4 linked regions of the Homo sapiens genome follow. The protein of the gene in region 3 purifies or fractionates together with the protein of the main gene of each other region. This does not show direct contact. Each region holds a gene or a part of one and is shown on either strand. Other genes may lie near its edges. The genes, in order: FLCN, SEC23IP, CTAG2 and TBC1D9B.

The links.
Region 1: the proteins of CTAG2 (region 3) and FLCN purify together in Homo sapiens (co-immunoprecipitation; 2 studies listed by BioGRID and IntAct, with this or other methods). This does not show direct contact.
Region 2: the proteins of CTAG2 (region 3) and SEC23IP purify together in Homo sapiens (co-immunoprecipitation; 2 studies listed by BioGRID and IntAct, with this or other methods). This does not show direct contact.
Region 4: the proteins of CTAG2 (region 3) and TBC1D9B purify together in Homo sapiens (co-immunoprecipitation; 2 studies listed by BioGRID and IntAct, with this or other methods). This does not show direct contact.

Annotation. Positions count from the first base shown.
Region 1 is NC_000017.11:17,213,154-17,220,179, reverse strand, and holds part of FLCN (folliculin), read left to right. Parts: exon of another isoform or gene 1-613; intron 614-970; coding exon 971-1,161; intron 1,162-2,997; coding exon 2,998-3,111; intron 3,112-3,676; coding exon 3,677-3,800; intron 3,801-4,863; coding exon 4,864-4,995; intron 4,996-5,089; coding exon 5,090-5,195; intron 5,196-6,323; coding exon 6,324-6,525; 3' UTR 6,526-7,026. UniProt on the Homo sapiens protein: Multi-functional protein, involved in both the cellular response to amino acid availability and in the regulation of glycolysis.
Region 2 is NC_000010.11:119,937,715-119,944,740, forward strand, and holds the end of SEC23IP (SEC23-interacting protein), read left to right. Parts: intron 1-2,871; 3' UTR 2,872-6,943; downstream 6,944-7,026. UniProt on the Homo sapiens protein: Plays a role in the organization of endoplasmic reticulum exit sites. Specifically binds to phosphatidylinositol 3-phosphate (PI(3)P), phosphatidylinositol 4-phosphate (PI(4)P) and phosphatidylinositol 5-phosphate (PI(5)P).
Region 3 is NC_000023.11:154,651,458-154,657,927, reverse strand, and holds CTAG2 (cancer/testis antigen 2), read left to right. Parts: upstream 1-4,348; 5' UTR 4,349-4,412; coding exon 4,413-4,681; intron 4,682-5,296; coding exon 5,297-5,431; coding exon of another isoform or gene 5,432-5,660; coding exon 5,661-5,799; 3' UTR 5,800-5,951; downstream 5,952-6,470.
Region 4 is NC_000005.10:179,890,888-179,897,913, reverse strand, and holds part of TBC1D9B (TBC1 domain family member 9B), read left to right. Parts: intron 1-3,299; coding exon 3,300-3,528; intron 3,529-4,446; coding exon 4,447-4,705; intron 4,706-6,327; coding exon 6,328-6,535; intron 6,536-7,026. UniProt on the Homo sapiens protein: May act as a GTPase-activating protein for Rab family protein(s).

The sequences.
Region 1 (7,026 bases), on a different chromosome or scaffold from region 3:
CCACTACTTGGAAGGCTTCGTTGGGAGGATCACTTGAGCCCAGAAGATTGAGGCTGCAGTAAGCCGTGATCGTGCCACTGCATTCCAGCCTGGGCAACAGAGCGAGACACTGTCTCAAATAAAAAAGATGGGAATAGTAGACACTGGGGGCTCCAGAAGGAGGGAGGGAGGGAGGAAGGGGAGGAAGGGCTGAAATGCTTTCTATTGGATACTATCTGGGCATATTACTTCCTGTGGTTCACTGTCTGGGTGACAGGATTCATAGAAGCCCAAACTTTAGCACCACGCAGCATACCCTTGTAACAAAGCCGCACACGTACGCCCTCAAGCTAAAACAAAAGTGGACCGGGAGGCCGAGGTCGGGGGATCATGAGGTCAGGAGTTTGAGACCAGCCTGGCAGATAACGGTGAAACCCCGTCTCTACTAAAAATACCAAAAAAAGTTAGCCGGACATGGTGGCAGGTGCCTGTAGTCCCAGCTACTTGGGAGGCTGGGGCAGAAGAATCGCTTGAACCCAGGAGGCGGAGGTTGCAGTGAGCCGAGATTGCGCCACTGCACTCCAGCCTGTGCGACAGAGTGAGACTCCGTCTCAAAAAAAAAAAAAAAAAAAAAAGTGGAAAAAAAAGAAACAACGTGTAGATCCTCGAGAACTGTGGCCGACTGGGTGTGTTCCGTAGACACGCTGTTGGCATTTTTCTTACTGATTTGAGTTTTCTCACCAGCAGAGAACAGCTGACGGTCTTTCCATAAGTGCTTCTAAGAGAGATGTGTGGTACCCCGGGCTAAGTAGACAGCAACTGAGCCCTCCCTCCCACCCCAGGGCTCCCAGAGCAACAGGGAGCAGGGAGCATAGGACCTGGCCGCAGCCAGGAATCTACACTGACCGGCTCAGCCCATGAAGTATCTTGGGCTGAAGTCACAGGATGAGACTGTTTGTATCTGTAACTGTCCTTGTCATCTGTCTTGCAGATTTAGAAGAGGAATCAGAAAGCTGGGACAACTCTGAGGCTGAAGAGGAGGAGAAAGCCCCTGTGTTGCCAGAGAGTACAGAAGGGCGGGAGCTGACCCAGGGCCCGGCAGAGTCCTCCTCTCTCTCAGGCTGTGGGAGCTGGCAGCCCCGGAAGCTGCCAGTCTTCAAGTCCCTCCGGCACATGAGGCAGGTAGGCGGCAGGGGCACAGCGCATCAGGAGCTCAGGAGGAGAGCCAGTCATGGGCTGTCCCTGCCCACACGCCTTGCCTCTGGACCCTCCACCTTCAAAACCCTGCAGGAAGTGACTGACAGCCTCCTCGGTGGGTGGCTGAGGGCACAGGGCGTTGGGGGTATTAGCCATAGGATCAGTGCTCCCCTTTCAGTGATGACCTAAGTATCTTCAAAGAAAAGCCCAGATAGTTGGCATCCCATGGTCCTCTAATCCTCTAAGAAGCTCCTAAAGGCATTGAACAGCACTGTAATTGGTTTGGATGCAGCCTGGACCCTGCCCATTGTAAGTGATGGTCTGGCTGGGCGTGGTGGCTCTCACCTGTAATCCCAGCACTTTGGGAGGCCAAGGGGGAGCGGATCACGAGGTCAGGAGTTCGAGACCAGCCTGGCCAACATGGTGAAACCCCATCTCTATTAATACAAAAATTAGCTGGGCATGGTGGCATGTGCCTGTAGTCCCAGCTACTTGGAGGCTGAGGCAGGAGAATCGCTTGAACCTGGGAGGTGGAGGTTAACAGTGAGCCAAGATGGCACCACTGCACTCCAGACTGGTGACAGAGCGAGACTCCATCTCAAAAAAAAAAAAAAAAAGAAAGTGATGGTCATTCTTACAAAAAATTAGGAACAACTTGCATATCAAACCATACTAGTAAACAGTAGCCAAACCATGGAATATGATTAATTAGAAGAAATAAAGCAGGCACTGTGTGTTCAGGGTGATGTATGTACATGTGTGCCTGCCAGACACGACAAAATCTAACAGTGTTGTCTCCAGTTACATCGAGTCAGATGCCGGGAGAGAGGGGTGTGGGTTGCTGGATTACAAGGGCAGGCTGCCTTCTTATAAAATTCTTCTGCATGAATTTTTCCAATGAGCACTGATTCATTAGAAGAGAGTTATTTGTTTTTGAAAATGGAGTGAGACTGATTTCATGGCAGATGTCCTTGGGGCTTCTGGATGTAAACACCCATTCCATCAAAATCCTGCATTTGGCTGAAACCTTCCTTGTCCGTTGCTTATGTTGATGAAGGTTGGAAGGGGTCTGGAATTCCTCTGGAGGTGGGACTACTTTGAGGCTGTTGGGGTTTGGTGAGACATAGTATTGTGGCCTCTCTCTTATGTTGTGTTTCAAAGCTGGGTTTGGCTTCTTAGAAGCCGTGAGACAGCAGGCTGGACTCTCCTAAGGTGTCAATGTCATGGAAGTTAATAACAGGTGGGGTGTGGGGAGAGGCTGTTCTAGGTTAAAGAATAAGGACGTGACAACTAAAAGCCATGATGGGTCCTGTAGTATCTCCTGGATCCAAAGAACAGCAGCCGTCAAGCAGGCAGCAGCCCTGGGCTTGTGCACACGGCTGGATGTCAGATGCGTCCGTCCAGGCACTCCTGGCTGCAGTCATGGTCTCAGCTGTGGAGATGCCCTTATTCTCCTGGGTGCTGCCATGTCGAGGGCCCTACAGCTTGCTTTCAAATGGTTCAGCAGAAAGTGTCTGTAGAGAGAAGGTGAATATTGCACAAAGTTAACATCTTTTTGCTTCAAATTTTTAAAAACAAAACTGGGAGAAAGATCTTGGAGCAAGAGCTTTGGAATCTAGCATTTATGTGCAAACCTGGAACTTCTCTCTCTGCCCCTTTAACCCTGGGCCGGGCACCCGCCTCCCTGAGAAGATAAGTGTCTTTCTCCTGAGCCCTGTCTTTGCTCTACAAAGTTTTATGAACACACAAATAACTTCATGGGAAGGGAGAGAAAAACCATTTCTACTAGTCACGCTGAAAGCACTGCACTCTCTTGTTTAGGTCCTGGGTGCCCCTTCTTTCCGCATGCTGGCCTGGCACGTTCTCATGGGGAACCAGGTGATCTGGAAAAGCAGAGACGTGGACCTCGTCCAGTCAGCTTTTGAAGTACTTCGGGTGAGAACATCTTTTCCTTAGGTGTGCGGCGCAGGGCAGTATTGGCCTGGTGCCTGGCGTCAGGTGGGGATGCCAAGGTGCACCGACTGCCCAGCACAGAACCGCTGTGCACCACACGGTCTCCACTGGGGGCGCAGTGGGCACGGAGACCCGGGTCTGGTCTGATGATGTTTAAATCATCAGAAGGATGCGTGTGCCTGCTGACTGCCCAGGCCTGAGAGGGAACAAAAATGCATATGACACAGTCTTGGTAAAAGCTTCTTTGTGGGATGCGGTAGGAGACAAACATCTGTGCAGGCAAACATTAATATGAGTTAACACCACAGAGCGAGGGGCGGTACAAGCTGGTGTGTGACTGGCGGTCCAGACAAGAGTTAGGGACCTGGTGGTGGAGGACCCTCCCCCCTCACCCCCACTGTGGGCTGAGAGTCTGGGGACTCCTCTGGCAGGAGGGAGGGCTTGGACCGGGCTGCAGGAGGCGTGTGGGGTTTGGGTAGTAGAGCATGGATGGCCGGGGCTGAGGGCTTCCTCGTGTCCTTGGTCTGAGTCCTGCTGTCCTCCTCAGACCATGCTTCCCGTGGGCTGCGTCCGCATCATCCCATACAGCAGCCAGTACGAGGAGGCCTATCGGTGCAACTTCCTGGGGCTCAGCCCGCACGTGCAGATCCCCCCCCACGTGCTCTCCTCAGGTGCGTGCCCCCGCGGGCTGTGGGGCCATGCCCTGCGCTGAGGTTCCCCACGCCTCAGGCCCAAAGTGGAACCAGATCTCTGTCATGGGTTGTGGAGAGGAGGCCTCATTGCAGGGCCAGCTTCCCCCATGGCTCTGGGCCTCCGTGTTCTATCTTCACACAGGTAGCGGTGGGTGAGTGGACCTGATGGGAAGGTTGGCTGGCAGGGACTGTCGTCAGTGGGCTGCAGGTCACCATCGTGGGGTGGGAGGATGTGTCCCTGGCCGGAGGATCCTGGTCGTCCTGGTGATTGGGTGCCTATGAGATGGAGGCCTGCTGAATGCTGGGTGTGAGCTGCCTGCTTCTGTGGGCCCTGCCATCCTCTCCTCACTCTTCTACTGTTCCCCTGTCCTGACTTCTGCTCTCCTCCAGCCTTTTTCTTCACCTCATGTGCCCGAGGTCTTCCCGGCCTTCACTGGTGTGGTCAGGGCTCAGCAAACCCCTGGTCTTTTGGTTTGGGGATGTCCAGGGATCAGCCCCCCAGGCTCATCAGTGACTTCCCCCAGCACAGCGGTGACCAGCAGCTGCTGACTCATGGTCCGAGTGGAGCTACCCTGAGCCCCCAATCAGCACCCAGGCTGGGTCCTGACTCCCTGCGAGGCAGTGCCTTTTTTCCGGGTAGCATTGGAAACACAGGCTCTGGTTTCAAACAGACTTCAAATTCTTACCACTACGAGCAGGTTATTTAACGTCTCCAGGCCTGTTTCCCCATCTGTAGAATAGGGTCATGGTGAGACCACCCTCATAGGGCTGCTTAGCCAGAGGTAAATTGATGTATATAAAGTACTTTGTGATTATTGTAATATAATAAATTATTAGTTTAACTGAGGCAAAAGTTAACCCTTAACTATTCACGAATAACCTGAAAGGTTTTAAATACCAAAGCATTGATTTGGGCCAGTCTTTTCACCAGCAGCCTTCCCCACTGACCTGGGATGAGCGGAGTGGGGCCCACGGTGGGCTAGCGCAGGGGAGGTGAGGAGCATGGGGGAGATGAGGAGCCACGGGCCTTGTGTTGTTACAGAGTTTGCTGTCATCGTGGAGGTCCACGCAGCCGCACGTTCCACCCTCCACCCTGTGGGGTGTGAGGATGACCAGTCTCTCAGCAAGTACGAGTTTGTGGTGACCAGTGGGAGCCCTGTAGCTGCAGACCGAGGTGGGTGCCCCCAGGCAGAGTGTCCTTTTTGTGAGAAGATGCCCCCGCCCCGCGCTAACGCCTGCCCTTGCTCTGCCCCTGCCCTTCTCCCCAGTGGGCCCCACCATCCTGAATAAGATTGAAGCGGCTCTGACCAACCAGAACCTGTCTGTGGATGTGGTGGACCAGTGCCTCGTCTGCCTCAAGGAGGAGTGGATGAAGTAAGCAACAGTGTGGGTGAGGCCCCTTTGCTTGCGACCCTGGAGAAAACCTGGAGCTGTTTCCAAAAGAGGAGCTGGGCCGTGGCCACTGAGGGAGGAGCCGAGAGAAGAGGTTGGGGGCGGGGTTCCAACTCCACGTCCGCCACTGCAAAGCTCAGGTGGCCTCGGGAGGCGGTCATCATGTCTGCCTCCGGCTCCTGCATGGGGAGGTGGGGGTGGCGCCTGCCTTGGAGAGCGACTGAGGCTTGGGCAAGGGCTCCAAGCTCACAGGAGGGTTCATAATGGAAGCTCTGTCATCTGCTGTGCAATTAACTTCAAAACCTAAAAGCCCAGTAACCCATGCCCCACCCCGCTTTTTATTTTATTTTATTTTTATTTTTTATTTTTTTTGAGTCAGAGTTTGGCTCTTGTTGCCCAGGCTGGAGTGCAATGGCATGATCTTGGCTCACCACAACCTCCGCCTCCCGGGTTCAAGCGATTCTTCTGCCTCAGCCTCTGGAGTAGCTGGGATTACAGGCACCCACCACCATGCCTGGCTAATATTTGTATTTTTAGTAGAGACAGGGTTTTAGCATGTTGGCCAGGCTGGTCTTGAACTCCTGACTTCGTGATCCGCCCACCTTGGCCTCCCAAAGTGCTGGGATTACAGGCGTGAGCCACTGCACCTGGCCCCCCGGGTTTTTTTTTTTGTAAGCAAATTTACTTTATTTCCTCCTGCCTCGATTCTTGGTAATTTTTTGGGTCAAATTTATTAATCAAACATTGTCCTGATTTAAAATCATGCAGTGAAGCTTAGGAGCAACCAGTGTCTTCCACGAGTTTAAGGAAGGTTTTTCTTTCTTCTTGGCGTCTTGACAACAGCTTGAGGGAGGGTGTGGGAAGCGCACAGGCCCCATACCCATACCCGACAGAGGGCCGAGCCCAGCCCCGACAGCTTCCCTTCCTTGCTGGGACACAGCTCCTTTCAGCAGTTCAGGGGCCAAGCCTGCTGCCCCAAGGGTGTGGATTCCAGCTCTGCCTGCACAGCTCCTGCTGGTGCCAAAGCCGTGTCACCCCTGGTTGGCCCCGTGACCAGGGCTCGAGGGATTGTGCTGTGGTGTCTGAGTGTTTTGTTTTGGTTTTCTTCAGCAAAGTGAAGGTGCTTTTTAAGTTCACCAAGGTGGACAGTCGACCCAAAGAGGACACACAGAAGCTGCTGAGCATCCTGGGTGCGTCCGAGGAGGACAATGTCAAGCTGCTGAAGTTCTGGATGACTGGCCTGAGCAAGACCTACAAGTCACACCTCATGTCCACGGTCCGCAGCCCCACAGCCTCGGAGTCTCGGAACTGACCCGTCACACACACCTGCCTAAAGACAGGGATGGCTGTCCACAGGATCCTCCAGCCCCGTGAGAGGGACTGTCCCTTGAGTTTCTCAACTGCTGGAAGGAGCTGTGTCCCAGCAAGGAAGGGAAACCATCAGGGCTGGGCTCGGCCCTGTCAGGTTTGGGGCCTGTGTGCTTCCCAGACTCTCCCTCCAGCCGTTGGAATCGCTGAAGATGGCAATGAAAGGCGGAGGGATGATGGGCTCTCTCTGTGTTCAAACTCCTTGGAGAGACGACTAGGAGGACAGCTTGCCTCCCAGGCCCCTTGTGGACTTAGACTCAAAACCCGCAGGAGAAACAGGTCCGACTCAGTATGCAGTCGCAATAACATGTCTGCTCCCGAGGTTAACATTCAAGCGTTTCTACTTTGAAATTCAGCAAGAGTTTCTGGGCCTTATGTTTGAGGGTACCTTTTGCTGCAGTTGTGAATATTCAGTACATTGCCAGCTCTTGGTCACTGAGTGATT
Region 2 (7,026 bases), on a different chromosome or scaffold from region 3:
TTTTTTTCCCCATTTGGCTTTGTAATTTAGAAGAGTAAGGTGTAGAGAACAATTTAACTTTTTTCTTACATAATCGTTTCTGTCTGTGCCATATATTGAATAATGTACCCTTTTGTCATTGGTTTGATATTTTTATCATATGCCAAATATTTTGCTGTTGTTTGACATTTTAATTAATATTTGTTTCCTAGGCTTTCTCATCTCTTCTGGTGATTTATTTGTCTATGATACTTCATTGATTTCAAGCCATTTATTTTCCACATTTTAACATATTTAAATTTGTAATGCATCTTAAAATCTGCTGTTGGGGCTGGTGCAGTGGCTCATACCTGTAATCCCAGCGCTGTGGGAGGATTACTTGAGCCCAGGAGTTTGAGACCAGCCTGGGCAACATAGTGAAACCTCGTCTCTTAAAAAAAAAAAAAAAAAAAATTTAAGTCAGCTGTTGCCTTAACGGAAGTTGAGTTCTTTCTGAGAAGCTGTGCATTCTCTTCTGCTGGTCACTGGGGGAGGGGCTTTACCAACTTGCCTCTGCTTAAGCTAATTTCTCTGCTTGGGATTTTTTAGGATGATGCTGGTAGTGTGATTTCAGCCCCCAAAATTTGCAGGGATGGGGTTGTCAGTTCAGATATTGGAGTTTTTGTTCCCTCTTTCCATTGTCAAGGAAGAGGTGCGCAGGCCTCTTTGCCATCCCTTCTGCATGTAGTTGCTTGCTTTTATCCCTCATTGAGACTATAGATGTTTAGTCCCCCACTTTTTGTGAGGGGTTCTCCTTTGAGACTCCCTTTCTGGGCATCTTTTTATGGTACATAACAGTGAAGTGTCACAATCAACAGTGTCTTAGATTTGGTGAAATATGGTGTTTTAATAATTGTAATTTTTTACATAATATCTGGCAGTAGAAGTTCTCAGTATACCATAGTCTTTGCAGTTATCCCGAATGAAGTTCGAAATAATTTAAGTTCCCCTGACGCTCTCTCCCCTAACAAAACAAAGCAAGACAAACAAAACCAAAAGAATAGTAATTCTAGGATTTTGCCATCACCTTATATGGAAAACTCAGAACCTTCTATTTCACATATGATTCGTTCACTATAATTGTTTTATTTACTTCTTCTTACACTTGGCTGTAAAATTTAGGCAAGAATTTAAGTTTCTAATACTATACTAATGTCATAAGATAATCCATTTAAAATGTTAACAATTATTCTATACATAGTTCATTCAAGCTTAGATCAGTTTTGCTGAATGGTTGTTTTATGTTCATGTCCTTTTAGACCTTTTTAGGATTGTTCTTTGAAAAGCCTCAAATTGGCCAGGTGTGGTGGCTTACACCTGTAATCTTAGCACTTTGGAGGCTGAGGCAGGCAGATCGCTTGAGCTCAGGAGTTCGAGACCAGCTTAGCAACATAGACAAGACATTACTTGTCTCTACTAAAAGTAAAAAAAAAAAAATCACTGGGGCATGATGGTGTGCACCTGTAGTCCCAGCAACTTGGGAGGCTGAGGTGGGAGGATTGCTGGAGTTCGGGAGATTGAGGCTGCAGTGAGCTGTGATCGTACCACTGCACTCCAGCCTGGATTATAGAGTGAGACCCTGTCTCAAAAATAAATAATTAAATAAAAAATAAAAAAGCCTCAAATTAACATGGCAGATAACTAACTTTATTTTTTATTAATATTTTAGCTGGTCACGGTGGCTCATGCCTGTAATCCCAGCACTTTGGGAGGCCAAGGCGGATCACAAGGTCAGGAGTTCGAGACCAGCCTGGCCAAATAGTGAAATCTTGTCTCTACTAAAAATACAAAAATTAGCCGGGCGTGGTAGCACACACCTGTAGTCCCAGCTACTTGGGAGGCTGAGGCAGGAGAATCTTTTGAACCTGGGAGACTGAGGGTGCAGTGAGCTGAGATCGTGCCATTGCACTCCTGCCTGGGCGACAGGGCGAGACTCTGTCTCAAAGAAAAAAAATAAAATAAAATATTTTAATTTTTTGAGAAGGGGTCTCACTCTGTCACCCAGCTTGTGTGAGTGCAGTGGCGCAATCTTGGCTCACTGCAACCTCTGACTCCCAGGCTCAAGCGATCCTCCTAACTTAGCATCTCGAGAGGCTGGGACCACAGGTGTGCACCACCACGTCTGGCTAATTTTTTTATTTTTTGGTAGAGACAGGGTTCCCCCAAGTTGCCCAGGCTGGTCTCGAACTTCTGAGCTGAGATGATCCACTTGCCTCGGCCTCCCACAGTGCTGGGATTACAGGCGTGAGCCACAACACTTGGCCATAACTAACTTTAAATTGTGTCTTTTACTCTCTGTACTGGCTTTGCTATGAAGAAATCATGCTGGTTAATCTTACTGAGTGTTTCCTGGGCATTCTTGTCCCTTTGGAAGGCCTGAGGACTTGCTTACAGGCTGTGCTCTTTGGAGGCGGTTTGCAGTGTTTGTCAGTAAAGTTGAGCACTGGATTGTCCATTTTTTTTTTTTTTTTTTGAGATGGAGTCTCACCCTGTCCCCAAGGCTGGAGTGCAGTGGCGTCATCTTGGCTCACTGCAAGCTCCGCCTCCCGTGTTCACACCATTCTCCTGCCTCAGCCTCCAGAGTAGCTGGGATTACAGGCACCCGCCACCATGCCCAGCTAATTTTTTGTATTTTCAGTAGAGATGGGGTTTCACCATGTTAGTCAGGATGGTCTCGATTTCCTGACCTTGTGATCTGCCCACCTCGGCCTCCCAAAGTGCTGAGATTACAGGCGTGAGACACCGTGCCTGGCCGATTGTCTGTTCTTTTACTTCAGAAAAGACAACGATGCATGGTATTTGACTGTAAATTTGTAAAGTTCACTGAGGTTTTTTTTTTTTTTCCTTTTTAAGACTTTCTTGTCTGCACAGAAAGTCCCAGTACAACTTCCATTGCTGAGAAAATCCTCAGAGGACTTTCCCACTTCGCTCCTGTGATGGATGACAGAAGAGTGATTCATTAACAATTGCTCAGCCACAATTCTCGGATATAGGGATTCAAAAGACAGGACACAGAACTAACACAGTGAAAAAAATCAGTACCACATTTGGACAGTATAGGTGAGAAAACATAATTATAAAAATGATGCCATGAAAAATTCCACAGATCAGTTTAGTTGTATAGTTGTCAAAGTTATATGTGATATCAATGAAGAAATATTTGTAGCATGTAAACGGTTATTTCTGTTTCTTAAAAAGTATTGTTAGTGGGCTATTAAACTTGGATTTTTCTTTTTATTAATGCAGTATGTTCTTTTTATTCAAGTATGAACTTGTTGAGAAACTATAGTAATATGATTTTTAAGAGATTTATGTTCTACTTAAAATGTGAATTGTACTTCTGAGCTGCCTTAATGCAAGGTCATTTATATTTGTTAAGAGGAAATAATCAAGATCACTCATATCCCAACTGAATCTGAGGTTTTATAAATCCCTCAAACGATTGCTGAGAGCCTGATTGTGGAAAGAAGTGAGATGCACCTTATTTTCAAGAAGTCCTGGGAAGCGCTCTCCTAGCACGTCCATTTCCAGGAGGAGAAGCAAGCAGATGAGAGGTTTTCCATTTTGTCATCCAAGGTAGCTGTGCACTTGCCTTGTTGCTGAAGTTCCAATAATGTGAAAACCAAAGTAGAGGTTTTTTTCTTCTTCTTTTTGTTTTCTATTAATTTCACTTATACCAAAGTGTTTGAAAGTATGAAATGTGTTGCTTCTGAGTTATATAAGGCTACTTCATGACAAGACTGCTTTGTAATATTTCACTTTGTTTTACTACAAATTCAGATCACTTTGTTTTACTATAAATTCAGATTATCCAAATATTTTCCTAATACTATGTGGGAATGCTGATTTTCTTTTGTTACGTAGTGGAAACATTTTGCATTGTTTACATAGTTCTCATGGAACATGGAAATTTTTGAAAGTGATATATGATACACATTTTTTGTGTATGTATTCTAATTAGTGTGAATAAAGCAGTAACATTAATGCATTTTTTAAGCAGCAAACTTATGTATTTCTCTTGTCTTCCTTAAAAGTGTCCCCATGAACTCAGTGTTTATTCCCTTTTCATTTTGAGTACCTGCTTATATGGTCAGTATGTAACGTTAGCATTGGCTCCTAATGGTAGAATTAGAACAGCAAGATTGTAGAGCTGTAATTGACTCCAGACAACATAGATTTCAGCCACCTCATTCTACAGCTGAGGCCAGGACAATAAATGCCTTTCCCAGACTGGGTAGTGGCAGATCTGGGATGGAATATGGTTTTCTTGATTCCCTTTCAGCCTTCATTTCTCTCTCTCAGGACTACTACTTTTTAATTACTTTTCACTTAATTTCCCAATACTGATGAAATAAAGAAAAATGAGGGTTATTTATATACATTTCAATAAAATCCAATTTGATTTTTCAACTTACATCTGATTTTTGTTTGTGTCATTCAGCCTGTCTTCTGAGTAATGGGCAGAGAAGGACCAGGGTTCGTAGAAGAAGCATGTGGCAGCTGAGTGGCAGCAGTCTTGCCCTTTCATTTTAATACTTGAGTACACAGAAAATAGAATTTTTGAGTGACTCTGCCTGTGGATATATATACTCATACATACATATATATATATACACACACACATATGTATGTATGTATGTATTACTATTCAGTCTCTTAAAAACCAAAAAACAGTAGATCCCCTGAGGGTAGAGTCTTTATGTATGAACATATTGTTCACTGTTGTAACCACCTTGCAGGATTTCAGTCTATAAACTAGGTGAGAATCCAGCTGCTGAGTGAAGCTTGATCTCTGCCTCTTCCTCAGGAGCAGCTCATCCCCTGACAACCTCCCCTCCCAGCCCCTAATCTGGTTTAATGCCCTCCTTTTCCCCAGATAAAGAAAGTCATGTCTGTAGTTATTCCAAAAGTGTTTCATGTGTAGAGTTTGGCACAAAAAGTAAAAAGCGCCAGCATCTGAAGTCAAAGGTGAAAGAGTCATCACAGTACTGATGAAGACACCCAGGCCTCGTCAGCTATGTTAACGTGCTGTATGACAAGAGGAACCTGCTTTCTAAGTCTGCTGGACACGCGTGCTTCTTGAATCCAACCAGACAAGCATGTTTTCTCAAAACCACAGTATAAGACAAGGAAACTGCACAGATTCGAGTGATTTTTGAGGTAAGTATGTTATTGGAAAGGTGTGATCTATATAGAACCCTGTACATGAAAAGGAGGAGATGCCGCTATCTTGGCAGGGATGATCATGTATTTGAAATAGTAACTCACAGCATTTGGTCTCATGATAAGAGTACTGAAGATTATCCCAGAAAACCTAGGATGATTGGTATTTATAGTACCATTGTTTCAGGTTTTTATGACTTGAGGCATCTAACTATCTTAATGCTGTACTTTAGTGTTTACCAAGCAGCTTTCTGGTGGAAACTTGAACTGCAGACACTGAGTGTTTTGGTTTTCCTCCAAGTTATAGTTCTCATTGTAACTTAATAAGTTGGCATTCCAGCTTAGTTTGAGTCAGTTTCCCAGGGCTGGGTCCTCAGAGGAGAGTGGATAGAATTCAGTTCCTCTATGAGCTGGGGTGCTGACATTGTGTTCCTGCTGTTGACTGTCCCTGCGGTGCACGGGACAGACTGTCAGCTAACCTGTCTTCATGACATTTCTATAATACTCCTCAGGGGGTTAACCCCATCTCTACTAAAAATAAAAAAAATTAGCTGGGCATGGTGGCATGTGCCTGTAGTCCCAGCTACAGGAGGCTGAGGCAGGAGAATTGCTTGAACCCAGGAGGTGGAGGTTGCAGTGAGTTGGGATCTCGCCACTGCACTCTAGCCTGAGTGACAGAGCGAGACTCTGTCTCAAAAAAAAATAAATGAATAAAAAATAAAACAGCAACTCTTGCAGATTTCCCGAATGTATTGGTCCCAGAGAACACTGAAAATAATGTCATGTTGTTAACACCAGTGGGAGTTTGGGAAATAATTCCAGCTCTTTAATACTTCTTTCAGCTTCAGATTAAGTGAAATGAGTTTCACATATTTCAATATATGAAATTTTATGATGACACATAAAACAGGCCAGGGGTTATTGAGGACACATCTGTGAGATAGTGGGCAATGCTACATATTCGTTAGTGGATGTGCTGCAGTTCAGGTTCATGGACAGGTGGGACTGGTGTGGTTGGGATAACCCACCATGTTTGTCTTTCATTTCTTGTATAAAGAGTGGTTTTTAAAAGACCTTACTATGGAATTTTCACAAATACTCAAAAGTATGGAGAATGGTACAGTGAATCCCCATGTGCCCTTTTCCCAGCTTCAGGGGTGGTGTCAGTGATAATGATTTGGCTCTGTGTCCCCACCCAAATCTCATCTTGAATTGTAATCCCCACGTGTCAGGGGAGGGACCTGGTGGGAGGTGATTGGATCATGGGGGCTGTTTCCCCATGCTGTTCTTGTGATAGTGAGGGAGTTCTCACAAGATCTGATGGTTTTAAAAGTGGCAGTTTTCCCTGCACTCTCTCCTGCCACCTTGTGAAGAAGGTGCCTGCTTCCCCTTTGCCTTTCGTCACAATTGTAAGTTCCCCGAGGTTCGTCATGATTGTAAGTTTCCTGAGGTCTCCCCAACCATGCAGAACTGTGAGTCACTTGAACCCCTTTTGTTTATAAATTGCCCAGTCTCAGGTAGTACCTTGATAGCAGTGTGAAAATGGACTAATACAGTCAGGGACCTAAAAGACAGGTAAAGAGATGTGGCCAGGTGAAGACGGAAAAAGGACAGTGCATTCCAGACCTGTGGAAAGACGCGAGGTTGGAAAGAACATCACAACTGGGGCGACTGAAGAAATTATGTTGTTAAGCACGAAATGCAGAGAGAGAGCTATGTGAATGTGTTGAGTGTGATTTTCATTAAACAATTTTTAAAGAAAGCATTTCTAGTGGTGCTTTTATTTTTGCAGCCGCTTAATAGCATTCACTCTTGTTGAAAGGAGCACAGTTTGGAATATTGGAA
Region 3 (6,470 bases):
TCCCTGCTTAACTTTAATTCAATGGCCCTCTTTGAATATAGACATCCTGGCCCTGTCACCTCTGAAGCTTCACCATTCCAGATGATGCCTAATGTGATTTCAAATACATTTCATCCATTCCAAGCAAGTCTTCTCTGATTCGGAAACACAAAGACTGTCTGCCAGCGTGTGTGGACCAGGACCGGCCCTCTGGAGGGGAGGGGCTGTTATGGGCCTCGGTAGGTTTTGTGTTTAAGCACACATGTGTTCTTCATGAGTACCTCCAAGGTGCAGAAGAAAAAAAAAATCTCAGTGTGTAATAGTGACAAAATGCTGATGAAGCAAACTATCAACAGCCCTCTGGAGGAATAACTTTCAAGGTAGGATGAACTGTGTGTGTGGAATTTGGAAACAATTGTTTTTTGGAAGCGGCTGAAAGCCACAGAGATGACCAGGAGAGCCGGGCGACATCTGCCCCGTGGTGTCTAGCGTGGGCCCCGAGGCTCGGTGACTTCAGAGACTTCATCACGGCACCGTCCGCCTCATTACATCAAGAAAAGGTGCCAATTAGAACAAGTTTCAGAGGAAAAATATGGCCTCCAATGAATTGAACAGGCTAATTTAAACTTTGGCAAACTGGCTCACTCCAGAGCTAATTAGAAATTTTCCTCAACAGCAAGTAATGAATAACTTTCTTAATCGCTTTCTGCTTATAAATGTAATACATGTTCACTGCAAAAGAAGAGGAAATATGGGCAAGTTCGGAAGAGAAAATAAAAAACCAACCGTTATCTCACCGCCAAGGATAACGACAATGAAAATGTGGTGTATTTCTGGATAAATGAGCCAATTCTTGTCTAGTGCTTACAACAGTGGCTTGGGACATGGTGACCACCCAACAAATGTTATTGGTTATTATTATTCTCATTGCTAGTAGGCTTAGAAAAGTCTTTTCCAATGCTATCCCTCCCCCAGCCCCCCACCCCCAACAGGCCCCGGTGTGTGATGTTCCCCTCCCTGTGTCCACATTGTTCAACTCCCACTTACGAGTGAGAACATGCGGTGTTTGGTTTTCTGTTCCTGTGTTAATTTGCTGAAAATGATGGTTTCCAGCTTCATCCATGTCTCTGCAAACGACATGAACTCATTCTCTTTCATGGCTGCATATATTTCATGGTGTATATGTGCCACAGTTTTAAAATCCAGTCTAACATTGATGGGCATTTGGGTTGGTTCCAAGTCTTTGCTATTGTGAAGAGTGCTGCAATAAACATACATGTGCATGTGTCTTTATAGTAGAATGATTTACAATCCTTTGGGTATATACCCAGTAATGGGATTGCTAGGTCAACAAGTTGATGGGTGCAGCAAACCAGCATGGCACATGTATACCTATGTAACAAACCTGCACGTTGTGCACATGTACCCCAGCACTTAAGGTATAATAATGAAAAAAAGGAAAGAAAAGAAAGAAAGAAAGAAAAGGAGAGAAAGAAAGAAAGAAAGAGAGAAAAGTCTTTTCCATTCCAACAATCAAATAAAGTTCATCTAAATTTTCTTCCAATGTTTTTACTTTTATTGTGTATATATTAGGTCAATACATTCTAAACACTTCAGATACTATAGAAATATTTCTCTATATAGCATTCCCCCGTGCTTCTACTGAGATATGTATCGGCAGCCTGAGAAGTCGGCATTCCTTTGTCCACACCCATCCCCGTGCATCCGTTTCATTTCATTCGCTCCACAGTCAGCCGCACCTCAGAGTTGTCCTTCAAAGGGTGAGAGACTAAGACTTTTATCCAGTGACTCTTGGCCCCATCGGTGGGGGGCTGTGTCCAAGGGTACAACTTCCCCAGAGCTTCCAGGCCCACCCTGTGCAGGGCGCAGGAGAAAAAGCAGATGTGTTGTGAGCTGCAGGAGAGGCGCTGGCACAGGGCACAGAGGTCCCCACCCCAGCAGCCGAGAGGCAGAAGGCACGTGCAGGGGGCCCAGAGGCTCAGCAGGATCTGAGATGTGAGAAGATGTCTACGAACACAGAGGCGCAGGAGGAGGCCGGAGATGACGGTCACTGGAGGGGCTCTGAGACGTGCACAGAAAACAGGACAGAGCTTGGCAGCAGCACTCATTTGTCGCCCTGCCACACACAGCCTGTGTTTTCTCCTTGACAGCATCTCAGTAGGACCCAATAATGCCAACGCCTGGAGATCCCTCTGGACAACCGTCTTCATCCTCCACATCTGGTCCTCCCCTACACCTGGGGCCTGGACCTGCTAAGGAGCTCTTTCCAGTTTTCTAGACACCTGTGGAATCCCTTCACCCACCCTTACCCATCGGTGTGGCTGCTCTCCAGCTCACTCTCGTCCTGCTCTCCCCAACTGCCTCGGCTCCAGGGGGACGAGGCTTTCCCTGGGCTGCTGCCTTCCCTGCCCCCTTCCCAGTCCCCAGAAGGGTGCCAGCCTCAGAGGCCTCCAGAGCAGAGCCTTGCTCACCGCAGCAGCTCCAGCTGGAGGAGGTTCCCCCTGCCTCCTGCACCCTGACCCCTTCTTAGAGCAGCAGAGGCAGAAGCAGGAGCCTGCTTTGGAAAATGACATGTTTTTATTGCTATGTCTGCAGTGGCTTTTTAGCACAGTAGAATGTCCCCGCAGGCCCGCCACCCTCACCCAGCCCCAGCCCTGCAGCCTCTGTCTGGGTGTCGGGGAAGCCTTTCTTGGGGTCACTCAGCCGTCTGAGGACTGGATGTGGCACAGACATACATAGGTTAAAGCTGCTACACGGAAGACTGGAGATGCGGGAAGTGCATTCGCTTTAAGCCTAGAGGTGGTAGCCGTGTCCGGGGTCCCTTCCTGGGGGTGTGCCTGTTACCGAAATACCAAGGGTTTGGTCTACGTCCTGCTGCTGGCCGCACAGAAAGCCAATGACTGACTGAGACGAAGAGCATTACCAGGGAAGACGGCTTTAATTGGGTGCTGCAGCCGGGGAGATGGGAGTTAAGTCTCAAATCCATCCCCCTGACTAAAACTAGGGGTTTATATAGCCAGGAAGAAATGCACCAATGTGTAGGAAAACAGGAACTCGGGAGGGCCCAGAAAGCAATCCTGATGAATTTGGGGGGTCCAGCATCTCATTGTCTGGATGTGGTTATCTGGTGAGTTTCAGTTCTTTGATATTTTGAGAGGCCCGAAGGTCATTTCCTGAGGAAGGAATTCAGATAAAACAACTGTAAGGTTCAAGCTTGAAGACCAGAAGGGTCAGTTTCTATGTGTATCAAAAAGAACAGCCTATGGGACGATTGGATCGGTTTCATGCCCAACCCAGGGTACAGGATGTGGGAAGCCTGAGCCGGCCTGGTGAGCAGCCCAGACACCCGGGATGGAGTATTGCAGCCTCTCGCCCCACAGACTTGTGAACAGGGCGTGGGGACAGACACCCAGCTCCTAGGGCCATGCCACCCCCACCCCTGCCCGCCTCTCGCAGCACCTTTCCTGTGGATCTGACCCCCTTCCAGACACAGAAGTAAGCCAGCACCCAGCAGACACAGGGTCACCTCCCAGCTCCCTACCAGGCAAGAGCGACCAGGGCAGGGACTGATACTGCCGAACCCAGGAGCCAGGCCCGACCCAGCCTCAGGTCCAGCAGGTCCCGCCTGTCCACCTGGGCCAGGCCTAGAGCCCGGGAGCCCCTGGCTGGTGGGAGGCCACCCGCAACCCACCCCACACGCAGCTCCAGCTCCCCCACCAGGCGGGGCGACTAGGACAGGGACAGAACCCGTTGAACCCAGGAGTGAGATCCGGCCCCGGGTCCCGCTGGGCCCTCCCGTCCACCTTGGCTGGACCTGGCGCCTGGGAGACCTTGGCTGGCGCGAGGCCACGCCCACCAGACATGCAGTTCCAGCTACCCCACCAGCTGGGCGACCAGGACAGGGACGGAGGCTGCTGAGCCCAGTTAGAGGCCTGCCCCCCGGGGTCTGTCCTGGGCGCTCCCCCAAGGACGGACAGGGCAGACAGGGTCCGGGACGATGGCCGCACAGTCCCGGCCCCGTGTTCCCAGGCCCGTCTTGCTCCTCGATGTGAGGGAGACCCGGGGGATGGGACAGGCTGGGCCCCGCAGTGCCTGACTCCCTGCAGGGCTCCCGGGACAGGGGTCCGGCGGACAGCCGGCTGCTCAGGGGTGAGGGGTCCAAGCTGGCATTGCGGCCACCTTCCGGCCCGGGCTCTCTTGGGGAGGGGCGGGGTTGGTGAGAACCGGTCACGTGCTCCGGGGCTCACTCGGGGTCTCCCAGGGCCGGAAGTAGGGCCCCTGTGCGCAGGCGCCCTGAGGATCCCGGGCTGCCCATCTCACGCCAGGGGGCGGAACTTCCTGCAGCCTCTCTGCCTCCGCATCCTCGTGGGCCCTGACCTTCTCTCTGAGAGCCGGGCAGAGGCTCCGGAGCCATGCAGGCCGAAGGCCGGGGCACAGGGGGTTCGACGGGCGATGCTGATGGCCCAGGAGGCCCTGGCATTCCTGATGGCCCAGGGGGCAATGCTGGCGGCCCAGGAGAGGCGGGTGCCACGGGCGGCAGAGGTCCCCGGGGCGCAGGGGCAGCAAGGGCCTCGGGGCCGAGAGGAGGCGCCCCGCGGGGTCCGCATGGCGGTGCCGCTTCTGCGCAGGATGGAAGGTGCCCCTGCGGGGCCAGGAGGCCGGACAGCCGCCTGCTTGAGTTGTATCCTGTTCTGTTCTGTTCTAGGAGGTTCTGGTGGCGAGGTGGGGGCCGTGAGACGGAGACAACAGGGTCAAGAGGTGGGGGGCAGGGCCAGGAGGTGGGTGAGGGCAGGGCCAGGTGCGGAAGGTGGGGTTTGGGAGATGGGGGTAAGGCGCCGGGTGGGGTGGGGGTGGGGGCTGGGAGTTGGAGGTCGAGGGGTGGCTCAGAGGAAGGGAGTAGGTAGGGGATGGGAGGTGGAGCGTGTGCACAGTTGGGTGCTGGGCGATGGGGTGAGGGGCAGGGGGACAGGAGACAGGGGTTCTTGGGTGTGTGAAGGGATCAGGAGTTGGGGGGAAGCGTGCAAGGTGGGAGCCGGTGGCTGGGGTGTGGGCTGGATGGGGGTGGTGTCAAGCGATGGGGAGAGGTCCCGGCTGATGCGGCAGGGGGCATGGTGGGGAGGGCCTTGGAAGGGCACGCAGGAGTCAGCTTGAGGTGCAACAGAGGAAAGTGGGGAATCAAGACAGCTGGGTGGGGTTGCTGCAGGACCTGGGCCAGTGCGTGGGGAGACAGCCTGAGGGGATGAGATGGGCACCGGCCAAATCCTAGGAGATGGCACCTTAACTGGGTCCCCACCAGGCACATCACGATGCCTTTCTCGTCGCCCATGGAAGCGGAGCTGGTCCGCAGGATCCTGTCCCGGGATGCCGCACCGCTCCCCCGACCAGGGGCGGTTCTGAAGGACTTCACCGTGTCCGGCAACCTACTGTTTATGTCAGTTCGGGACCAGGACAGGGAAGGCGCTGGGCGGATGAGGGTGGTGGGTTGGGGGCTGGGATCCGCCTCCCCGGAGGGGCAGAAAGCTAGAGATCTCAGAACACCCAAACACAAGGTCTCAGAACAGAGACCTGGTACACCAGGCCCGCCGCCACCCGAGGGAGCCCAGGGAGATGGGTGCAGAGGTGTCGCCTTTAATGTGATGTTCTCTGCCCCTCACATTTAGCCGACTGACTGCTGCAGACCACCGCCAACTGCAGCTCTCCATCAGCTCCTGTCTCCAGCAGCTTTCCCTGTTGATGTGGATCACGCAGTGCTTTCTGCCCGTGTTTTTGGCTCAGGCTCCCTCAGGGCAGAGGCGCTAAGCCCAGCCTGGCGCCCCTTCCTAGGTCATGCCTCCTCCCCTAGGGAATGGTCCCAGCACGAGTGGCCAGTTCATTGTGGGGGCCTGATTGTTTGTCGCTGGAGGAGGACGGCTTACATGTTTGTTTCTGTAGAAAATAAAGCTGAGCTACGATTCCGTGTCTGAGTCTCTTTTCGGCGAGCGAAGGCACCTTCGGACTTGCATGCCCTTGTCCTCGGGTTGTAGGGGAGGCTCTGGGATTCACAGATTGAAGTAGCACAAGGTAACGGGAGGCAATTTGGGAAATGGGGGAAAATGAAAAGCCACTGGGTCCCGCCATTCAGCATTAACTACTGTGGACATTTTAGAATATTTTCCTCAATATACTTGCATTTATATGTTAAATATATGACAGTAGCATATATAATGTTTTTCCAGGTCAGCATTAAATTTTTTCCCAAATTGTTTTCATTGAACATATGAGCTTTTGTGCTTTCTAAAAATGCTTCAAAAACATGTACTTGAATAGATGCATAAAACCAGCATTATTTCACTGTTAAACATGTGATATGGGCCGGGCATGGTGGCCCACACCTGTATTCCCATTGTTCTGGGAGGCTCAGGTGGGAGGATGGCTTGAGACCTGCAGTTGGAGGCCACCCTGGGCAATGTAGTGAGATTCTATCTCTATAA
Region 4 (7,026 bases), on a different chromosome or scaffold from region 3:
CTGATACCAGAACTTCCTAAGCCTGGACAGACATTACCAGCTTTCTCAGCTCTTCTCAGTGCACTTTGGGGTTCAAGGTGAGACCTGGTTACCTCTATCTCCAGGAAAACAGGTGGAGAGAGCAGAAGCAAGCCTTTACTCTGGTGAGCAATTGGGCGATGATAATAATAGTAGTTGTGACATTATTCACTGCCTCCTATATGCCAGGCCCAACAAACGCATCAGCAGAACAAACCAAATGACTCATAGGCCAAGGAAGAAATGGAAATTAGAAAATATTTAGAATTGAGGCCAGGTGTGGTGGCTCACACCTGTAATCCCAGCACTCTGGGAGGCCAAGACGGGCGGATCACTTGAGGTCAGGAGATCAAGGCCAGCCATCCTTTGCCAACATGGCAAAACCCTGTCTCTACTAAAAATATTTAAAAAGTAGCTGGGCGTGGTGGCATGGGCCTGTAGTCCCAGCTACTCGGAATGGAAGACTGAGGCAGGAGAATCACTTGGACTTAGGAGGCAGAGGTTGCAGTGAGCTGAGATCACACCACTGCACTCCAGCCTGGGCAACAGAGCGAGACTCCATCTCAAAAAAAAAAAAAAGAAAAGAAAATGATTGAAATACTACTGCATGTCAGGATGTGTGGGATGCAGTGAGAGCAATACACAGAAGGAAATTTAAAGCCTTCAGTCTTACAAAAGAAGGAAGGATGGGCCAGGCGCAGTGGCTTATGCCTGTAATCCCAGCACTTTTGGAGGCCGAGGCGGGCGGATCACGAGGTCAGGAGATCGAGACCATCCTGGCTAACACAGTGAAACCCCATCTCTACTAAAAATACAAAAAAATTAGCCGGGCATGGTGGCGGGGGCCTGTAGTCCCAGCTACTCGGGAGGCTGAGGCAGGAGAATGGCATGAACCTGGGAGGCGGAGGTTGCAGTGAGCCGAGATCATGCCACTGCCCTCCAGCCTGGGCAACAGAGCGAGACTCCGTCTCAAAATACGCTGTGAGGAGCATCTTTAAAAAAGCAAAACTCTAAAGAGAGAGGATGACAAAACAGCCTTAAACCAGTACCTTTAAGAATTTAGACAAAATGGGGCTGGGCGTGGTGTCTCACACCCGTAATCCTAGCACTTTGGGAGGCTAAGGCAGGTGGATCACTTGAGGCCAGGAGTTTAAGACCAGCCTGGCCAACATGGCAAAACCTTGTCTCTACTAAAAATATAAAAAATTAGCTGGGCATGGTGTCGCGCACCTGTAATCCCACCTATTTGGGAGGCTGAGGCACAAGAATTGCTTGAACCCGGGAGGCAGAGGTTGCAGTGAGCCAAGATTGCGCCACAGCATTCCAGCCTGGGCAATAGAGTGAGACCCTGTCTAAAAAAAAAAGAATTTAGACAAAATGGGCACTTTATTAGAATAACATTTATTAATTTCCAGTTGCTTCTGCAACAAATTACCATCAACTTAGTGGCTTAAAAGAACACCAGTTTGGCTAGGCGCGGTGGCTCACACCTGTAATCCCAGCACTTTGGAGAGAGATGTTTAGATCGCAGCTGCGGTAGCACTGGTATAAGAGAAGAAAAACCCTTTTCCTTCTCCCCATTTAGGTTCTTGGCTGGGGCTCTGTTACAAAAGGCAGATTAACAAGACAAAAACAGAAGTTTACTAATGTGTGTATCTCATATATTCATGGGAGAAACTTGGATAGGTGACTCAAAAGTTTAGTTGGAATTGGGTTTACACAGCCTCTTAACACAGGGACAGGCCACTTAAAGAACAATAACAGGACAGACGAAAACAGCTTATGCTTCCAAGGGCAGGAAACTGTGAGAAGATAAATACGTGGGATGAAACCGATGGAGTAAGGTTTGTTTGCAGATGCGTGCGGTGTCATCTCTGGGCTGATAGGAATCTAGAATTGTCTCCAATAAAGGAGAACGTATATCCAGCTTTTAGGCAGAAAGGGGGAGGGAGGGCAGAAAGAGCTTTTCCTGTGTTTGCTGCTACTTAATTGCCTTCAGCTCAAAATACTTCTTATGTCAAAAGGGCATATTTTGGGATGGCATATTGTAGTTTCCTTCCCTGGCTACTCAGAAATAGAAGAAATCAGAACAGATCCCACCTTTCAGTCCTCACCTAGGCTCATGGCTGTCCTCACTGCCCATGGACAGAGGGATCGGGGGTGGCCCAGCCACCAGCACTGACCTTGACTGACTAGTTTATCTTGTAATTGTCTTTCTAGAAAATCAATGTGTACATTTTGAGCTGAGGGCACTGCTGAGGACCTGTTTTACCCCAGGAGGCTTGGGGCTGGCTCTGTGGCCCAGGGGGATGTCTCTGGGCACCCTGAGCCCTGTAACAATGCCAGCAGCATGAGGGAGTATGGACGGGCCCTGAAACTGCAGGTCCTGCCGCTGGTTTGTGTGCAGGGCCAAGAGGCAGGAGCCCCCTGGCATACAGGGGGCCAAGTGCAGGACGTCCTCCAGGATGTGATAAGAGAAGCGCTTTACAGAACAGAGCTGCAGGGTGATCCCATTTGGGCAAATAAAGGGGGAAAGAGGAAAACATACATTTGCTTATGAATCCATTGGTGTTTGCATGTCTGGAAGGAACCAGGAAAGTCACTACAGAGAGCGAGAAAAGATTCCCTTTTCACTGAATACACATTTCTACTGTATGCATTTTTTACCATGTTTATGGATAATGTTTCAACAATTTTACATGAAAATAACTGAAATATTCATTTTAAAAGTGTCAGGCCAGACACAGTGGTTCACACCTGTAATCCCAGCACTTTGGGAGGCTGAGGCGGGCGGATCACTTGAGCCCAGGAGTTTGAGACCAGCCTGGGCAACATGGCAAAACCCCATTTCTACAAAAAGTACAAAATTAGCCAGGTGTGGTGGAGTACACCTATAGTCCCAACTACTTGGGAGGCTGAGGCAGGAGGATGGCTTCAGCTGTTGGGTTGAGGCTACAGTGAGCCGTGGTTGAGCCACTGCACTCCAGCTTGGGTGACAGAGTGAGACCCTGTCTTAATTTTTTTAAAAAGCCTCTGCTCACAACTGGTGATGACAGTAGTTACGGGAGTTGCAGGAACTTTGTCTAGAGAGTCACACAGGCAGCGTCTCTCATCCATGTGCCTTGACTGCAAGCCAGCAAGAGCCACTGACTGTTCCCAGCTGTGCCTGTAGCCCTTAGACCAAGGTCCATGAGTCCTGGGTTCCCTGGGCCTCTCTGCTCCACCCTTTGACCTGTCCGGGACTGTGCAGGGCAAGCCCTTGTCCTCTTGCCTTCCTCCAGGGAATCATCGCAGAAGAGAACAAGAACCTGCAGCCCCAGGGAGACGAGGACCCCGGGAAGTTCAAGGAGGCTGAGCTGAAGATGCGGAAGCAGTTTGGGATGCCTGAGGGCGAGAAGCTGGTGAATTACTACTCCTGCAGCTACTGGAAGGGCCGCGTGCCCCGGCAGGGCTGGCTGTACCTGACGGTCAACCACCTGTGCTTCTACTCCTTCCTGCTGGGGAAGGAAGGTGAGCCCGCCCCTCAGTGTGCCCCAGCCCCCACACCCTCAGCCCCTCCCTGCCTTCGGCCCCCAGATACTCCATCCCCACATGGCCACCAGAGGGGTCTCCCTGAAACCCAAATGCCACCTTAGCGGCCCAAGATGGGACTGTCCGGCCTTGGCCAGGCGTACACCTGCTCCCAGCCGACTTTTACCATGCCCCCCACTCGCTAGTAGGGTTCTCTACATGGTGACTCCGCGTGCCTGCCCTGCCCTCTTCTGCTGAACTGGCGTATTCAGGCACACGTCTGTCCCAAATTCCTGGTGATTCCATGTCATGCAATGCCTTGGGTGCGTGCCACAGCCCTCATCTGCTGCAGGTTCCTCCCTACAGACATCCCGGCCACAGGATGCGAGCCTGATTTCCCAGCAGCTCCAGAAAGAGCCCCAGGGTCTTAGCCATCCCCAAGCCCACCAAGCCCTCCTCCCTCCTTGCCTCCCTCAGCCCACAGCCTCCCTGTGCCCCCTCCTGCCCTTGCCGCTTACCTGTCACGACCAGGTGGCCAGTCACCTCCCGTCAGCAGGGGCTGTGTCCTGTTCTGTGTTGGCCGCGCTGTGCTGTGACTGTTCACACCTCCGTGCGCTCCCACTTGGGGGAGCTGCTGGGTGGGTCTCGGTGGTTCACCTCCGCACGTTCGTTCCTTTCCCCTTCAGCCACTGGTGGGGGAGACACTCACCGTGTGTGGTTGGTCTGGAAGGCAGTGGACACCTCAGTGGCCTGGTCCCTCCACATGGAGGGCGTGACACAGCCCAGACAGGCCTGGGCACACAGGAAGTGCTGCCCCCAGAGAGCAGTTCCCTGGGATGGGTCTGGGGTACAGATGGGCATCAGGAGCCTCGCCCTGCCAGGCCCTAACTTGCGGTGTGTCTATCTCTGTGGGCACAGTGAGCCTCGTGGTGCAGTGGGTGGACATAACGCGTCTGGAGAAGAACGCCACCCTGCTCTTCCCCGAGAGCATCCGTGTGGACACCCGCGACCAGGAGCTCTTCTTCTCCATGTTCCTCAACATCGGCGAGACCTTCAAGCTCATGGAGCAGTTGGCCAACCTGGCCATGCGGCAGCTGCTGGACAGCGAGGGCTTCCTGGAGGACAAGGCCCTGCCTAGGCCCATCCGGCCACACAGGAACATCTCAGCCCTGAAGCGGTGCGTTGCCCTCCAGGGCTGGGGTGGGCTCATGTGAGCCAGGTTCGCTGACCTTGGCTGGGACCTGCCTGGTCCAAGTGTGTAGACCTGGAGAAGGTGTCCACATTCACCCCTCATGGGCTCCCCACTTGGGAAGGAAGCCAGGTAAACAGATCATTGCAGTCCCGTGTGGAGAGGCAGCAGGAGATAGCAGTGATGTCCTGAGGATACCACTAATGGGGAGGAAGCTCTTCACACTTTATTCCTCTTGGCCCTATGATGGGAAGGGGCTCTTACCATCCCTAGGTATCAGACAAGGAAGCTGAGGCACAGAGAGGTTAAGTAACTTGCCTGAAGTCCCTCGGTTAGTGAGCAGTGGAGCCAGGATGTAGCCACCTCAGCCAGGGTGTTCTGACACCCCCAGAAAGGCTTTGGTAAATCTGGGCTCAAGTGCACGGCCTCCGTCCCACCGTGATTGACAGCTCTCCTGTATACCCTGAGACTCCTTGGCCAGAGGCCTCTCACAGCCATGGGACCCCCAGGGGTCCTGAGTTTGACGTGGAAGCAGACCTCTGGGTCTGAAGCCAGCCAAGGAGATGGGCCATGTGTGGGTCTGAGTTCCCTGCTGCCCTGTCCAGGGGACCGATAGGCAGGAACACATCATAGCAGCCAGCCCTCCCGGGCTACTTAACGTTTGGGTTCCTAGGTTGTAGCTTATGGGAAACTCCAGAGGCTGGACAAGATCTCTGAGGTTCCCTGGGTCCCACAGCCAGCCTGACCACAGCCAGATTCACACCCTTGTGTTGAGCGACCTCATTCCAGCCAGGCCATTTCCTGCATTGCACCCACAGACTGTGGTCCAGGCCCAAACTCTGGGGTCCACCTCCAGGACCAGAAAATTGTGCAAGCATGTTGTCCTTGGGATGCAAGTGACAGGTTGGCTTGTTGGACCTTTTGGAAAGAACACGAGCAGAGATGGAACATGACTGCTCCTGGCACTGCCGGTGAGAATGCAGTCAGGCCCTGGTCAGGCCACTGCGGCCCAGGGCAGGCAGGAGGCTCCCTTTGGGGCTGGGAGAGTTTATGTGGACAGAGCCACCAAAGGGGTGAGGGCCTGGGCCAGGCCACTGTCACAGCCATCAGATACACAGGTGTGCATTTCTGTTAGCAGCCGCATGCTTTAGTTTAAGCTCCACACCTCCCTGTGGGGAGCTCCTCACCTAGGTTTCAAGGTGAAACCTGGGGTTAGGCCTGCCCAGGGTGGAAGAGCTGCCCGGGGCCCTCCATCTGAGTGGGATCCAGGGCAGGTGCTCTGGGCTCTGCTTGCCCATCAGTACCGAGGGATGGGTTGCACATTGCCCAGGCCAGCATCTAGGTGTGTCCTTTTCAAAGCAGTCTCAGGACACATTGCTTGCTGGCCACTTCTCCGCTGGTTATGTGACTGTCTCACCTTCTGCCTGCTCACTCAGCATGCATCTTTTATTGAACTCTGAGGTCCCTGAGCATGACTTGCTCAAGGGACCACCCCAGGGATCCTGAATCTGATGTGGAAACAGGCCTGGGGAGGCCCCAAGGCTTCCTTGAGAGTGTGCTGGTCCTGACCTTGTCCCCTTTCCTCCTGTCCTCCTACCTTGTTTCCCCAGAGACCTGGACGCCCGAGCCAAGAATGAGTGCTACCGAGCCACGTTCCGGCTGCCCAGGGATGAGCGGCTAGACGGCCACACAAGCTGCACCCTGTGGACGCCGTTCAACAAGCTGCACATCCCTGGCCAGATGTTCATCTCCAACAACTACATCTGCTTCGCCAGCAAGGAGGAGGACGCTTGCCACCTCATCATACCCCTGAGGGAGGTCAGCATCCCCTAGTTGAGAGGCCAAGGCCTTTCCAGCCCCGAGGTGTCAGTGGGCTCAGGGACCAGCCTGTCCTGCTCTGCCCTGTCTCACTGGGGGGTACCTGGGAGGATGCCCTAGCCCAGGCAGTCACATGTCACTCAGTGATGGGACAGGTGGAGGGTGTAGGACAAGTGAGCCCCTCCACAGGCACCTGCCCTGTTGGGGAGGCAGGTAACATGGTGGGGGCACACTGCTTGCCCTCTCAGGTCACTTGCCTAGTGGAGACAGGGTCTCCCACGCGTGAGTTTCCATCAGGCCTGCCTTCTGGGCCCTGCAGGGCAAAGTGCTGCTCCGTGGCTGCGCTTAGAGGACCGTGTTCCTGCACCGGTCCCATATGTCACTCTCAGAGGCCACCTCACCAGTCCTCTCTGGACATACCACCTTGGCGTGGCTCGGCTCCAGCAGGCCATCAGAGGTCGGCTCTCCCCTGTGGGGCGGCGTCGGCTCTC